Linked DNA regions of Homo sapiens. The protein of the gene in region 2 binds, or shares a complex with, the protein of the main gene of each other region. Each region holds a gene or a part of one and is shown on either strand. Other genes may lie near its edges.

Evidence for each region.
Region 1: the proteins of SORT1 (region 2) and GRN are in contact, whole or in part, in a crystal structure (PDB 8T8S), measured with the Homo sapiens proteins. Residues at the interface, in NP_002950.3 of Homo sapiens: Leu108, Gly110, Ser111, Val112, Ser113, Leu114, Ile174, Gly175, Pro176, Lys260, Tyr304, Ser305, Phe306, Gly307, Leu308, Phe314, Ala315, Ser316, Arg325, Ile327, Phe350, Tyr351, Ser352, Ile353, Leu354, Tyr395, Thr398, Gly399, Thr402, Phe404; in NP_002078.1 of Homo sapiens: Pro578, Arg579, Trp580, Asp581, Ala582, Pro583, Arg585, Arg590, Gln591, Leu592, Leu593.

Annotation. Positions count from the first base shown.
Region 1 is NC_000017.11:44,340,329-44,348,301, forward strand, and holds the start of GRN (progranulin precursor), read left to right. Parts: upstream 1-4,973; 5' UTR 4,974-5,006; intron 5,007-7,973. UniProt on the Homo sapiens protein: Secreted protein that acts as a key regulator of lysosomal function and as a growth factor involved in inflammation, wound healing and cell proliferation. Regulates protein trafficking to lysosomes, and also the activity of lysosomal enzymes.
Region 2 is NC_000001.11:109,310,503-109,318,440, reverse strand, and holds part of SORT1 (sortilin isoform 1 preproprotein), read left to right. Parts: intron 1-471; coding exon 472-588; intron 589-1,482; coding exon 1,483-1,591; intron 1,592-3,662; coding exon 3,663-3,769; intron 3,770-4,056; coding exon 4,057-4,180; intron 4,181-4,383; coding exon 4,384-4,398; 3' UTR 4,399-7,938.

The DNA.
Region 1 (7,973 bases), on a different chromosome or scaffold from region 2:
ACTGTGATGGTAGAACAATGTATCTACTTGGATGGTGCTCCTGGATTAGATTAACATTTAAATCAGTGAACTTTGGTTAAAGCAAATTGCTCTCCATTGTAGGGAGACCCCCTGAAACTATTGCTACGGAATAAAAGATGAAATGCTCCTGATTATTGTAAATACGAAATTGCATGCAGGATTGTGTAAAGACAATGCCAGGTTGGACTGCCAGTATAAGCCAACAGCTCGTGATGTGCTTCCCCCTGAAGAGAGCCTATGAACAGACGTGCAGTCAGGGAGGTTTCACATCACCAATATTCCTATCCCAGAAAAGCAGATGTTCATAGCCCTGGGAATGGAATGTGACCCTTGTGGAGGGCCTATAAATGGACGCATGAGCGGCACCTGTTCATATGGATAAGATAGGGCTATAAATGCCCTCATCTTGCCATGGCTCTTCTAGGCCTCTTTAAGGTTAAGGCATACTCCCTTCTGATAATTTCTGGTCTAACTGGTTATCTAGCTTCACGTCCTGTTTCTATGGATTGTTTGTAACCAGCTTTTGCTGCAACTCTTACTGCTGATTAATATCTTGCTAATCATAGGTTATGGAAAGACTGTGTTTCTGTTTTAAGGCTCTGTTAGAAATTACTGATGCACACACTATATTGTAAATTCTTATCTCTGTATACTGTACTTCTGCATACAGATGTTATGTTAAAGAATTACTTCATCCCCATGTGACCATCTCACCTCATAATCAAACGACCCTAAATCCCTCACTAACCTACCCTCGCCCTCACTAAACTTAATAATAAATGCTGGTATATCCAGTGCATTGGCAGCATCGCAGGACCAGAAGGCGGTGACCCCCTTGGACCCAGCTTTCACTATCTTGTGTGTGTCTATTATTTCCCGACCTGCCGATCCACCTGGGGACAAAGAGAGAGCCCCATTGCCTTGTGGGCTGCTGGCCAGATCCCGCGATACTCCATAATGTGGATGGACCTGAATAAAACAGAAAGACGGGCCTCGCCGAACTAGAGGGAATTCTCCTGCAGGCTACCCTCAGACTTAACCATCAGCTCTCCTGGGTCGCCAGCCCACCAGCTCACACTAAAGGCTTAGGATGGTTATGATAAGAAAGACAGATGATAACAGAAGTTAACCATGGATGAGGCTAAAGAGAAATTGAAACCCTCATACATCGCTGGTGGGAATGTAAAATAGTGCAGCTGCTTTGGAAAACAGGCTGGTAGTTACACAAAAGGCTAAACAGAATTATTATGTAATCCACTAATTCTACTCCTAGGTATATACCCAAGAGAAATGAAAACATGTCCACACAAAAACTTGTATGGGCCGGGCGTGGTGGCTCACTCCTGTAATCCCAGCCCTTTGGGAGGCTGAAGTGGGAGGATCCCTGGAGTTCAGGAGTTTGAGACTAGCTGACCAACATGGCAAGACCCTGTCTCTACAAAAACCACACAAAAATTAGCTGGACATGGTGATAAGCACCTGTAGTCCCAGCTACTTGGGAGGCGGAGGTGGGAGGATTACTTGAGCCCAGGAGGCAGAGGTTGCAGTGAGCAGAGATGACACCACTGCACTCCAACCTGGGTAACAGAGCAATACCCTGTCTCAAAAAAAAAAAAAAAAATGCTGGGGGGATGATGAAGATAGGCACAGTGGCTCAAGCCTGTAATCTGTAATCTCAGCATTTTGGGAGGCTGAGGCAGCAGGATCACTTGAGGCCAGGAGCTTGAGACCAGACTAGGCAACATATTAAGACAAAAAAATACAAAATATAGCTGGGAGTGGTGGCATGTGTCTGTATTCCCAGCTACTCAGGAGGCTGAGGTGGGAGGGTCTGAGGCTGCAGTACAAGGTGGCACCACTGTAATCCAGCTTGGGCGGCAGAGGAAGGCTCTGTCTCAAAAACAAAGAAACAAACAAAAATGGGCCACGCGTGGTGGCTCACGCCTGTAATCCCAGCAGTCTGGGAGATTGAGGTGGGTGGATCACTTGAGGTCAGGAGTTCGAGACCAGCCTGGTCAACATGGCGGAACCCTGTCTCTACTAAAATACAAAAATTAGCTGGGCATCATGGCACATGCTTGTAATCCCAGCTATCCGGGAGGCTGAGACAGGAGAATTGCTTGAACCCAGGAGGCAGAGGTTGCAGTGAGCCAAGATCGTGCCACTGCACTCCAGCTTGAGTGTTGGAGTGAGACTCTGTCTCAAACAAATGAAAAGAAACAAACAAAAAAGAAATGAGATACTGATACCTGCTATGTGATAAGCTTTGAAAACATTATGCTAAGTGAAAGAAGCCAGTTGCAGATCACATATTATAAAATTTCATTTATATGGAATATCCAAATCTATAGAGGTAGAAAGTAGATCAGTGGTTGCCTAGGGTTAGGGAGGGTGACTGCTAAAGGACATAAGGCTGCCTTCTGTGGTGATAAAAATGGTCTTAAACTGATTGTAATGATGCTGCATAACTCTCTTAAGACACTAAAAACCATTGAGTTGTACACTTTAATTTTTTTGTGTTGGCGGGGGTGGATGGAGTCTCGCTCTGTTGTCCAGGCTGGAATGCAGTGGCACGATCTCGGTTTACTGCAACCTCTGCATCCCGGGTTCAAGCGATTCTCCTGCCTCGGCCTCCTGAGTAGGGAATTACAGACCTCGTTATCGTGGCACCTTACCCTTCTGATGTTAAAAAAAAAAAAAAAAAGAGCGAGAGAGAGAGAGAGAAACATTTGTGAAGTAGGTTGTTGAGTCTCAGCACTATTGACCTTTTGGGCAGGATACTTCTTTGTTGTGGGGGATTGTTCTGTGTGTCGTGTGATGTTTAGTGGGATTGCTGGCCCTTACCTACCAGATGCCAGTGTCCCTCCACCCTGAGTTGTGACAACCCAGATTGTCTCCAGACACTCCTAAATGTCCCTGGCCGGCAAAATTGCCGCTGCTCAAGAATCACGGCTTTGACGATTAGACTTTGTGATATTTGTTTCAGTCTGTTTAGGTTTTTTTTCTTCTACCTGTATTTTTTTCTGGTTCTGGGTGGTTGTAATTAGTAGGTTATTGATCGATTCACCTAACATTTCATGAAAGTTTCATGTGTGTGTGTGTTTCAATAGAAGCATAAACTATACTCCCTAGTCTCAAGATACACAGGAAGGAAAATAAGCACAAATGTGTCACCAGGGCACAGACTAGTACTAGGTCCTCAGCAGGCCAGGTGTCTTATCCGCTGTCTGGGTCTGCTCTAGCTCCAGGCTTAGAACCCCTGCCACACGACTCCACAGCTCGGTTGGCACCCTTTCCCTCCTCCGACTTCTGCTGCCTCGAGCTTGGTTAGCCATCCCCCTGCCCCTGCCTCATCCTCAGCTCCAGTTCCTTGCTCAGGCTGCAGCAGTCTCCATCCCCTGTGCAGACACTGCCGTTCCTCCACGGCCCAGTATCAGGCTTTCCCTGGGCCTCTCCTCTCTCCTGGCCCATCTCCCATCATCCATCTCTGCCTGGCCCAGGCCCTTTGGCACCAAGCAGGCTGACTCTTGTCACTGGCTAATCTGTTCTGTGGTACATTTTCTCTCCTCACCCTCCCATATCAATTCCTCGAAGGCAGGGCCGATCTGGAGACTAGGAAGCCACTTCTCTTTCGACAGCCCCCACCACAGCCCAGCCCGTGCCAGGCACCCAGCAGCTCCTGAAGCCCACTGGCATTGAACATGGCATTCAATCCCTGCCAAGCCTGCCCTTCCCATCTGGTTTCCCAGGGCTCTTCCCAACACCTCCTCCTCCACCTGCCAGTTAAAATCTTCCCAGACTCAGCTCAAGGAGATGCTCCTAAGGTGGAATGAAATCTCTTCTTCCCCACCTGGAGACAATCTACTTCCTCTCCCTACACCTGGCAACTGGCGCACAACCTTGTATCTTAAATTAGATTCAGCCTGAGACTGTCTCCCACCAATCCCTGCTCCCTGTCCTGCTGAGCACCTTGAGGAAAGGGCTTTGGGGCTGTTTATCTTTGTCCTGGAAACCATCCTTCAACTCACTCTGGGGCCTGCCTAGCATGTCAACCGAGTTTGGAGAATAGGGCAGAATAGGGCAGGACAGGACAGGACAAGACAGGGCAGGATAGGATAGGAGCGAGCCAGCTCAGTAGCTCACATTTGTAATCCCAGCGCCTTGGGGGGCTGCGGTAGGAGAATCGCTTTGGGAGCAGGAGTTGCAGGCCGCAGTGAGCTATGATCAGCTTGGGCGACTGAGCGAGACCCTGTCTCTAAAACAAACACACAAGTCCGGGCGCGGTGGCTCATGCCTGTAATCTTAGCACTTTGGGAGGCCGAGGTGGGCGGATCACGAGGTCAAGAAATCGAGACCATCCTGGCCAACATGGTGAAACCCCGTCTCTACTAAAAATACAAAAATTAGCTGGGCGTGGTGGTGCGCGCCTGTAGTCCCAGCTACTCGGGAGGCTGAGGCAGGAGAATCGCTTGAACCCGGGAGGCAGAGGTTGCAGTGAGCCGAGATCGTGCCACTGCACTCCAGCCTGGCGACAGAGTGAGACTCCGTCTCAGAACAAACAAACAAAAGGATAGAAAGGCGAGCACAAATATTCCCAATTCATAACACTCCCTCGCACTGTCAATGCCCCAGACACGCGCTATCATCTCTAGCAAACTCCCCCAGGCGCCTGCAGGATGGGTTAAGGAAGGCGACGAGCACCAGCTGCCCTGCTGAGGCTGTCCCGACGTCACATGATTCTCCAATCACATGATCCCTAGAAATGGGGTGTGGGGCGAGAGGAAGCAGGGAGGAGAGTGATTTGAGTAGAAAAGAAACACAGCATTCCAGGCTGGCCCCACCTCTATATTGATAAGTAGCCAATGGGAGCGGGTAGCCCTGATCCCTGGCCAATGGAAACTGAGGTAGGCGGGTCATCGCGCTGGGGTCTGTAGTCTGAGCGCTACCCGGTTGCTGCTGCCCAAGGACCGCGGAGTCGGACGCAGGTAGGAGAGCGGCCGCGCAGACCTCTCGCCTGCTCCTGCCCAGGGGCCCGCCAGGGCCATGTGAGCTTGAGGTTCCCCTGGAGTCTCAGCCGGAGACAACAGAAGAACCGCTTACTGAAACTCCTTGGGGGTTCTGATACACTAGGGGGAGTTTTATGGGAAAGAGGAAGCAGTAATTGCAGTGACGCCCCGTTAGAAGGGGCTTTCTACCTCCCCAGCATTCCCCCAAAGCAGGGACCACACCATTCTTGACCCAGCTCCACCCCTGTCGGTAGGTGCTGGCTTCTTCCCCTCTCCTGGTGGTGGTGGGTGGTTCCCGCGGCGGCCTGGAGCCGGAGGGGCGCGCGACCCTGGGCTGGGAGCTCCGAGGGCCTGGGAACGAGACCTGAGACCTTGGCTTCTCGAAGGTAGTAGGGACTTGGGAGTGGTGACTGAACCTGGTCTGGCTCCTCCTTACTTCCTCTTGTTGCGGGTGGGACGAGCTAGCTTCCGCCTCTCCCAGCCACTTTTTCCTGCTCATTTGCAGCTAGGTTGGCTCCCCTTTTGGGAATTTCCTCTCCCCTTGGCACTCGGAGTTGGGGGGTGCCACCTAGTGGAAGATAACGGAGCTAGGGTCTTGAAGAGGCTGCTGTCCCCTCTGGCTGTTTTGGCGGTGTAGGGTGGCATGAGAGACTGCGACTCGCCTCCTCATCCCTGTTTCTGTATGCGAGTGCTTGTATTCAGTAGAAGCATACACTATACTCCCTCAATTTAGGGTAAACAGGAGGGGCCACATGCACAGGTAATTCACCAGGGAGCCGAACACTCCTGTGCAGACAGACTCCCCTTCCCAGCAAGCCATGGCAGCGGACAGCCTGCTGAGAACACCCAGGAAGCAGGCGGTGCCAGCTGCAGGTGCTTTGCCTGGGAGCTGTGGGGCTGAGGAGAGGGTCCACTGTCCAGGACCAGTGAACTTCATCCTTATCTGTCCAGGAGGTGGCCTCTTGGGGATGCTGAGTTAGGGGAGGGGCACTTGAGGAAAGCCAGGTGGAGCAGAGAGGATGTGAGTGACTGGGTGGGTGAGATTTCCTGCCCCTCCCCCCGCAGTGGTATCCACACCTAGACTCGTGGGGTAACTGAGGCACAGACAGAGAGCAACTTCTCAGGCCCTCACAGTTGGCAATTCTAGGATTAGGACCCAAGTGCGATTTTCAGGCAGTCCCTGTACCCTGTTTCTGTTGTACCTGTTGCACCATTCCCAGGCACTGCCCATCGTGCCACTAGTGATATGAACCCAGGTCCAATACGCTCTGGGGCCATCAAAGCCTGACGTCACCATGACCTGATGTGTGACGTGTTATAGGTGTCCCTTGGTATCTTCACGGAACTGGTTCCAGGACCCCAAAATCTGTGGGTGCTCAAGCCCCTGAGATAAAATGGTGTAATATTTGCATATAACCTATACATACTTTAAATCATTTCTAGATTACTTATACCTAATACAATGGAAATGACATGTCGGCTGGGCGTGGTGGCTCATGCCTGTAATCCCACCACTTTGGGAGGCCGTGGCAGGTGGATCACCTGAGGTCTGGAGTTTGAGACCAGCCTGACCAACATGGTGAAACCCCCATCTCTACTAAAAATACAAAAATTAGCCAGGTGTGGTAGCGCACACCTATAATCCCACCTACTTGGGAGGCTGAGGCAGGAGAATTGCTTGAACCTGGGAGGCGGAGTTCGCAGTAAGCTGAGATCGCGCCACTGTACTACAGCCTGGGTGACAGAGCAGGACTCCATCTCAAAAAAAAAAGAGAAAAAGAAAAAGAAATGCCATGTAAATAGTTGTGATCCTGAATTGTTTAGGGAATAATAAGAAAGAACTATCTGTAGATGTTCAGTATAGATGCACCCATCGTAAGCCTAACTACATTGTATAACTCAGCAACGATGTAACATTTTCAGGGGTTTTTTTGTTTTGTTTTTTGAGACAGAATCTCAGTCTCACTCTGTCACCCAGGCTGGAGTATGTTGGCGTGATCTCTGCTCACTGCAACCTCCACCTCCTGGGCTCAAGCGATTCTCCTGCCTCAGCCTCTTGAGTAGCTGGGATTGCAGGTGTGCGCTACCACGCATGGCTAATTTTTGTATTTTTAATAGAGATGGGGTTTTACCACGTTGGTCAGGCTGGTCTTGAACTCCTGACCTTGGGATCCGCCCACCTGGGCCTCCCAAAGTGCTGGGATTACAGGCGTTAGCCACCGCGCCCAATATATTTTGATCCCTGGTTGGATATGGAGGGCTGACTGTACTTAACATCTCTAAGCTTCAGTTTCCTCCTTTAAAATAAAGGTGTGGCTGGGTGTGGTGGTTCAAGCCTGTAATCCCAGCACTTAGGGAGGCTGAGGTGGGTGGATCAGCTGAGGTCAGGAGTTCAAGACCAGCCTGACCAATATGGTGAAACCCCCTCTCTGCTAAAAATACAAAAATTAGCCAGGCGTGGTGGCGAGCGCCTGTAGTCCCAGCTACTTGCTTGAACTTGGGAGGCAGAGGTTGCAGTGAGCTGAGATCGTGCCACTGAACTCGAGCATGGGCAACAGAGCAAGACTGTCTCAAAAAAAAAAAAAAAAAGGGGGTGAGCAGACGTGGTGGCACGCTCCCACAGTCCCAGCTACTTAGTAGGAGGCCAAGGTTGGAGGATTGCTTGATCCCAGGAGTCTGAGTCCAGCCTGGGCAACATGGCAATACCTCATCTCTAAAAATAAAATAAAAGTAAAGGTATTAATTACTACTTTGGATGGTTGTTGCAAAGAAATATATATAAAATAATGGAGAGTCTTGTAACTGGCTCCCAAGAGGCTCAACAGACATTACTGTTTTTGCTTCTTCATTATGAGTTACCTCTCTGGCCACCCCACTGAACTAGCTGGGCTAGCTGAGCCTGGGAGAAGAGTTGTTTAGGAAGTGAGAGGCTGCTCTCCACAGAGA
Region 2 (7,938 bases):
CGGTGGCTCACACCTGTAATCCCAGCACTTTTGGAGGCCGAGGTGGGCGTATCACAAGGTCAGGAGTTTGAGACCAGCCTGACCAACATGGTGAAACGCTCTCTCTACTAAAAATAAAAAATTAGCCAGGCATGGTGGCATGCACCTGTAATCCCAGCTACTCAGAAGGCTGAGGCAGGAGAGTCGCTTGAAGCCGGAGGCGGAGGTTGCAGTGAGCCAAGAACACGCCACTGCACTCCAGCCTAGGCGAGAGAGTGGGACTCCATCTCAAAAAAAAAAAAAAAAGGCCCTCTCCGTGTCTGTTTTCCTAAATCGACCTCCTTCAGAGGTGTCACAGGACTTCCTGAGCTACTTTCTAACAACCCAAGACTGGAATGTTAACCATCCACTACCCCACATAACCCTTCATTGCTAGTCACTTAACGGTCTTCCAGCTGCTTTGAAAGGTACTTTATTTGCTGACTCTTGCAGTGATTTTGGCTACTACCGTCCAGAAAATGACTCCAAGTGTGTGGAACAGCCAGAACTGAAGGGCCACGACCTGGAGTTTTGTCTGTACGGAAGAGAAGAACACCTAACAACAAATGGGTGAGGTGGCCTTTTCTCCCTTGTCACGATGGATGAGGTGTTCTTGTTCAGAGTGAAAGCTGCTTCTCTCCACACTGAGATCCAAGCCCTACTTTAGAGCACTATTTTTGGCGGGGTTGGGGAGGGGCAGGATATGAAGGCCTCCTTCAAGGGTCAACTACAGGAGGTGAGCCATGAGTGCTTGGTGTCAGAGGACTCAACCCCACCAACACCACGAGGCAGAGCAGGAGAACAAGCTCGGCCAGATCCTGCACCCCTGCCTCCCGCCCAACCACCCCCAGGAAGGGAGGAGAGGCGAGGGACCCACAGGCAGAATGACAGAAGCGTCCCATCCGCCATGAACGTCCATCGCTCGTCTGGCACAGTTTAGGCACAGCCAGGGAGAGCTCTGTCTGATAGGACTTTCTTTGGTGATGGAAGTGTTCTGTAATTTGCTGTGCCCAATATGATAGTCACTAGCCACACATAGCTGTGGACACTAGTGTAACCGAGGAACTGAAATTTTCGTTTTAATCAATTTTAAGTAGCCACCATATTGGACAGTGCTGCTCTAGACGGGCCTCATTACCTCGCTCCCCTGATAACTTCCCCTCTCCCATTTTGTACCACTTGTTAATGAGCTTTTTTGGGGTCAGATTTCTTTGGCACAGTCTCTTAGGTAGAAAGAACAGGCATGTTTCTGACAGCAGGGGACAGAGATGCTTAGTTTGCTTAAGGCCTGAAACTACACAAAATATCCCCCAAAACATCCCTGTGGACATTCCCCCCAGGCCTGAAACATGACGTAAGGATGGGAAGCTTTTCGGCAGCTTTTCAAATCTTGTTTCCAAGAAATAGGCAGGTACCCAGGAATACATCCTTATCTTCTGTTACCAAATCTTCTTTGCCTGGTAGGTACCGGAAAATTCCAGGGGACAAATGCCAGGGTGGGGTAAATCCAGTTCGAGAAGTAAAAGACTTGAAAAAGAAATGCACAAGCAACTTTTTGAGTCCGGAAAAACAGGTATGTTAAAATAGGTCTAGTTTTCAGGTACAAATGGGATTTTGTGTTCTGCTAAGAAAAATCAAAGTTAAAGCATCAAGAGTTTTGTTACTGATAAAAAGTGGTCAAACTACTTCTCTCAGGCTTCCCTTATACAGGAAGCTGTTAGCATGAAGGATGGGTCATGTAACCCAGTGATAAGCTCACCCTACTGAAAGCTCTTTTCTTATTGAGGGTTGGGGGATGATATTCTGTAAAGTTGTAAAATTCTTAAAATCATACAGTTGTGGAAATTTCTGAGGCTGAGAGTCATTTAGGAAAACAAAAAGGTTGTCTGTGGGCTGGGTACAGTGGCTCACACCTGTAATCCCAGCACTTTGGAAGTCCAAGGCAGGCAGATCACTGAGGTCAGGAGTTCAAGACCAGGCTGTCCAACATGGTGAAACCCTGTCTCTGCTAAAAATACAAAAATTAAAATTACAAAAATTAGCTGGGTGTGGTGGTTTACGCCTGTAGTCCCAGTTACTCGGGAGGCTGAGGTAGGAGAATCATGTGAACCTGGGAGGTGGAGGTTGCAGTGAGCCGAGATCGTGCTGCTACACTCCAACCTGGGCAACAGAGCAAGACTCCGTACCAAAAAAAAAAGGTTGTCTGTGAAGGGCCATGACCTGGAATTGTGCATGTGTGGAAGAGAAGAGCACTGGGCAATAGGTAGGGTGGATCTCTGACCAAGTCATGTTAAGTATGTTCAAAGTGAAAAATTGAGCTATGGTAATGGGCTGGTTTTGATTTAAATGAAGCAAGTTACCTGTCGGGCATGGTGGCTTACTCCTGTATAGTCCCAGCACTTTGGGAGGCTGAGGTGGGGAGATCAGTTGAGGCTATGAATTGGAGAGCAGCCTGGGCAACATGGAGAAACTCCATCTTTACAAAAAAAATACAAAAATTAGCCGGATGTGGTGGTGTGTGCCTGTAGTCCCAGCTACTCAGGAGGCTGAAGGGAGAGAATCACCTGAGCCTGGGAGGTCAAGGCTGCAGTGAGCCATGATCATATCACTGCACTCCAGCCTGGGTGACAGAGTGAGATCCTGTCTCAATTTAAAAAAAAAAAAAAAAAAAAAAGGTTATGAGGCTGCATCCAAATCTGTAGCACTGAACTACCTGTGGAACTGGAGATGTGTAAAGAGGAAACCTCTTGATAATGAAACACTAGACCAGCAGCATGACTTCAGATGCTCAACAGCAGGCCCGTTTCCCAATTCGTAATAGGAGAGGTCAAGCTGGATCACCTGCAGTCCCTCCTCTCTGCTGTTCTAAGGGATGAGGGACTGACAAGGGGTGGGATTAAGGAGATGATGGGAGAGGAGTGTGTGAGTGTGTGTATTGGTAAGGGGGCGAGTTCCTCCTTCTGTGCACCCTTGTCCTGGGCTCCTGGTGACTCTCCTCAGAGTGTTCGTGTGTGTGATTGCACAGGACTCCCACCCACAGGGACACAGCTTGTCCTAGAATCCAGCTCTGCCTCCTCTGGGATACATTGAAAACACACACTCCCTATTTCCCACCCAGAAGCAGGTAGGTCACATGCAAACAGTGATATGATAAGGCTTATTTATAATAATATATAAAAAATTAAGTAAACAAATAAATCTTGGTGTCATATAATGGCCTGCCTGGTTCTTCTGACACAGCTTCTTCCCAGATAATGGCCCTGTTCTAGAGTCATTCAGCCTACTGTTACAGTAGTCTCCCTTTCCTACTCCACCCTTAAGCCCCAAGACTTGTGAACAGTGGTAGTGTGAAGCAATCATACTTGATCTAGGCAGTTGCCCAGGCTTCCAGTGTAACTTTGACATTTAAACCACAGAATTTGAAGGTTCAAGGCAGTTGGAGCTAAGATGACTCTCTGCCAGCTATAATATTCTCCTGGTAACACTGAGATGGTTCATCTTGGGGGGTTGGAAAAGAGCCATCATTAAGCGCATCAGGACTGCAGATCATTCACAAAGAGATGAGGGGAATGAGTGGCTGCCTTGACCTCAGTCCTAGGATATGCATGCCTAAAACTTTTGTGTTTGTGTTTTAATTTCTCAAGAATTCCAAGTCAAATTCTGTTCCAATTATCCTGGCCATCGTGGGATTGATGCTGGTCACAGTCGTAGCAGGAGTGCTCATTGTGAAGAAATATGTCTGTGGGGGAAGGTAAGGAACACAGAAGTCAATCCAAGGTACTGAGTTCAAGCCAGAAGGCTGATCTAGGGCATATGGCTGAGTCTACTCTTGGCAAAAACTAGGTACTTGCAGTACTGTTCCTGAAAAATCAGGCCCAAATCTTCTCATGTCGTACATTTTTCATATGTCAACCATGGACTGTGCTTTCTGTGTCTGTGATGCGTTCCTGAGTGTATAAAACTGAGAAAGTCCACAGTCCTGTAAGAAGTGCACCCCTGCTGTGTACCACCGAGTGTTAAGGAGGTTTCTGTTCACAGGTTCCTGGTGCATCGATACTCTGTGCTGCAGCAGCATGCAGAGGCCAATGGTGTGGATGGTGTGGATGCTTTGGACACAGCCTCCCACACTAATAAAAGTGGTTATCATGATGACTCAGATGAGGTGAGGCTATTTCTTCTTGAATGGTAGTACCCCCCCCCCCAAAAAATACAAGAAAATAAAGTCTGTCTTCTATTCATGATCAAGATATGCCAGGGCCAAGGCGACTTAATGACCATAAGATTTGGCAAGCCCAGAAACTAGGTGATTGCTTTTGAAATAGGAGTGTTGTGGTCTGTCGGTAATATGGTGCATGTCTTTTTCAGGACCTCTTGGAATAGCTCTTCAGAGGAGCTGGACCCAGCATGGATGGTGGAACCACAGTACCTCTTACACTCCCTGTGGCTCCAACTTCAGGAAATAAATTTCCCATTGCGAGGGACCCAGCTCTGTTTCTGCTGCTTCCATCAAAGCCAAAAGGACCTACACTAAAGAAATGCAGGGTGGGGGTGGGGAACCCTGAGCACTTTTTTACAATTGGCTCTGAGAAAAAGGGAGACATTTTAAATTCTTTAACTTCTTATTTCTCGTCCTGTCTCTTTGCAAAGTATGGGCTTTTTTGTTTTTGTTTTTTAAGGGAAACGAAATGGAATTCGAAGGGACCTTTTCACTAACCCCACTTCTGTGTGTTCTGCATGGCGCCTGCCCCAGGGCATCTGCCAACTCCAGTATCAGCTCTCACAGTGTACTTGGTACCATCCCTGGGCTCTGCTGGCGAGACGAAACAGCTGTAGAGATGAAAACAGGCTGCAGAGGCTGGCACAGCCTGGCCGGCTTTTCTCCATCTGGGGACAGTCCTACTCCAAGAACACTGCACACCAGCTCCTCACACAGATCCCACTTACTCTTTTTTTTTTTTTCAGAGACCACAGACCACAGTGATTTTTCTTTTCCCTTGTTTAATTAGGCAATACCCTTGTTAATTGCCCTTTGGCAACTAACTTAACCATGTGCTTCCCACACAGTACATCAGGAAAACTTACAGGGCAATATTTTTAACTTGGGGCAGGAAGAAGGGAGCAGCAGAGAATTGACTAGATATAGCACCTATTAAAAGAGAACTCTTGCTTCTTCTGAGATTTTTCAAGCTGTGCTTTGTGTGTGTGCCAGTAGACTTACGCAAGGACAGGGTACAAACTTAGCTGGAAGTCTGCCCAGGCTGAATGATCTCTTCCCTAGAGTTGATTGTCGGGTACACAGTGTGAACCCCCGAAGACGGAACCTCACAGTCTTCCATGTTCCCTTCTTAACTGTCGTGTGGCTCGTTGCTAAATCATGACAATGGCTGCCTATCTGCTGCTTCTTAGGTTGCTGTTGTACATGGAACCAGGACTAGAGATTTTTTCAGATTTATAGACTTAAAAAATTAGAATTTTATTACCAGGCTTTCCTTCTCACCCCTTTTTTCTGACTTTGCCAAGTAATTTGTTGACACGAAAATTTTGGAGGAACCAATTGAAAACACACTTCCAGTCTAGATGATGCTTTGTGTGATACATTAAGTTCTTATTTTGGATTAAAAGAAGTTTTCCATTTGATACCTCTCTAAATTAAATAAATTATAGAATGTAGTTGGGTGGATTTTGGGGTGGCCATATAGTAATGGAAAGCTGCAATAATTAGTTTTAATACAGCTTGAATATTTGCTATATAGAAATATAGTATGGAAAGTTTTTGGTCTTAATGTAGCTACTGTGCGGGTCACAGTTTCTCCCAATGATTATGACTGGGACATTCTTTGGTAGATACCATTTGCTACTAGTTTATTTTGTGGCTAGAAAGTCAGTTTTGTGTGTTTTTTTTTTTTTTTATTTGAAGTGCCAAATTAACTTTAGTCAGAATGTGAGCAGATGGCTAAGTTCTCTCCTCCCCAGAATGGATTAACAGCTGCGTGGAAAGTGGGGGAGAGAGTGGATGGAGACTTTTAGAGATGTTAAAACTGCAGTAGAATGAAATGAGTCAGGGAGCTTCAGTTAGAAAATAAAGTTGAGGCAGTTTTTGTGAAGATAATATGGTTAGGGCTGGAGTGCACTAGTCTTTTTGCTTATTCATTTTGCATGGTTTTAAAATTAAAAATAATTCCGAAGATACACCAGCTCACAAATGAAAACGTCAGCCTCTGCCCCACCCTCCCTCCTGCCCAAAGTGAATTTGGTACTCAGAAAAGAACTGTTTATACCACTCACCTTTCTCCCAGCATGTACTCACTGTGGGCAGATGCACCAATACATGGTAATCCTCTTACTCATTTTAAGACGTAGGAAACTCAATATTCTTCTCTAACCATATACGATAGGGCTCTTCGCTTTTAATGATATCTGGGATTTCTGTGGAACTTGGCAAATTTTCAGAGCACCTTCACTCACATAATGTCATTTGAACCTCACAATGTTCTTGGGATGGAGTCAGTTGTTCAGGGTCCCCGTGTGTGTGATAAGCAGTGCTGGCTGGCTGTCTTCAGAACTCTTGGAAATCTTTACACATGCGAGTGCTAACCACTTTGAGCAAGGCTGCCTTCTTGTAGATGACTTGCTGTTCTTTATGACAGGGATCAGTGGCATTTGTTTCCTAGCAGTATTTAGCACCTTTTTGCCACCTTGGTGAACAGAAAATTGTATTTTCCTGTCTTTCATGGCTGAAAACAAAAGTAATGGGAATTTTAAATACGTTTGCAGAAACTGCCCCTCCCCTCATTGAGGGTCACTGCTCAAGAGTGCAGGAGTGGACTCTCCACTGATGGGTCTCCCTCCCCATCCTGGTTTCCACCCCGGGCTGGCTAGCTCTGTTGGTTTGAAGACTGACAGCCAGCCTGGCTCATTCTCATTATTGGCTAGTTAGCTTTCTTTATCAACCTGCTCACTCACAAATGTGTGCCCTCAGCCAGAGAGTAAGAAAGCCCAAATCTGTTACAGCTTCTAAAAAAATAGATTTCTAATTTGTCCTACTCATGTTAGGAGCATTATCTTTGAAGGTAAAACATAGTGTATCATTGTGTAAACTCCCAGGCTTGATGTAGCAGAAGAGATCATTTCTGGAGGCTTCAGCAATGGAATTTAGCATTATAAGAGAGATTGGACAAACCAGTCCAAAGTGGTCCGAGTTCTTAAATCCAGGTAGGGAACTCACTCTTCTTTCTTCTCTGGACCTAATTGGGCATTGGGCTTTAGTGAGACCACAGACCAGGCCCGTCTCTCCTGTAGGCTTTTAATTCAATGGCAACTCTATTTCAAAGAATAAAAGCCTTTGGAGAGTTGCGGCAGTTCTGGGGGCGGGCTCAGGAGAGTCCATAGATCAGCCGTAACTGGAACGTAGAATCTACGTCTGCCTCTGAATGGACTTCCCACCTCCTCTCTCTTGCTCTGATGCTTGCCTCTGGGCCTCTCCATGCCCAAGGTGGTCTTTCATCCTTGACAGGCTGGTAATGTGCTGGCCACCTCCAGCTCCTGCATCGAGTCTGTAAACCAGAGCTGGTTCTCATGGCCTTCGTCACGATACCAGGATACGGAGGGGAGCCCAGGGCCATCCATACCCACCCCAGGGTAACGGGGCTGGCCTGGCATTAGTCATTATTTAGTTTCCAGGCCAACCATCCAGATAGAGATTCCCTCTTTCCTTTGAGCAGTGCTCTCAAGAGCTCCGTGCCTGTCCACAATGACCTAGAGTGCATCCTGCTCATTGTCAGTGTAGCCCCTCGCCCCTATATTCATCCAGGATACTTGGAAGTGCTAAAATAGGAAGGGATTCGGCTTTCAACTTTGCTACCATCTTCCCTGAAGCAGGAAAATGAACATGGACTTAAATGTTCTTTGAAAAAACCAAAG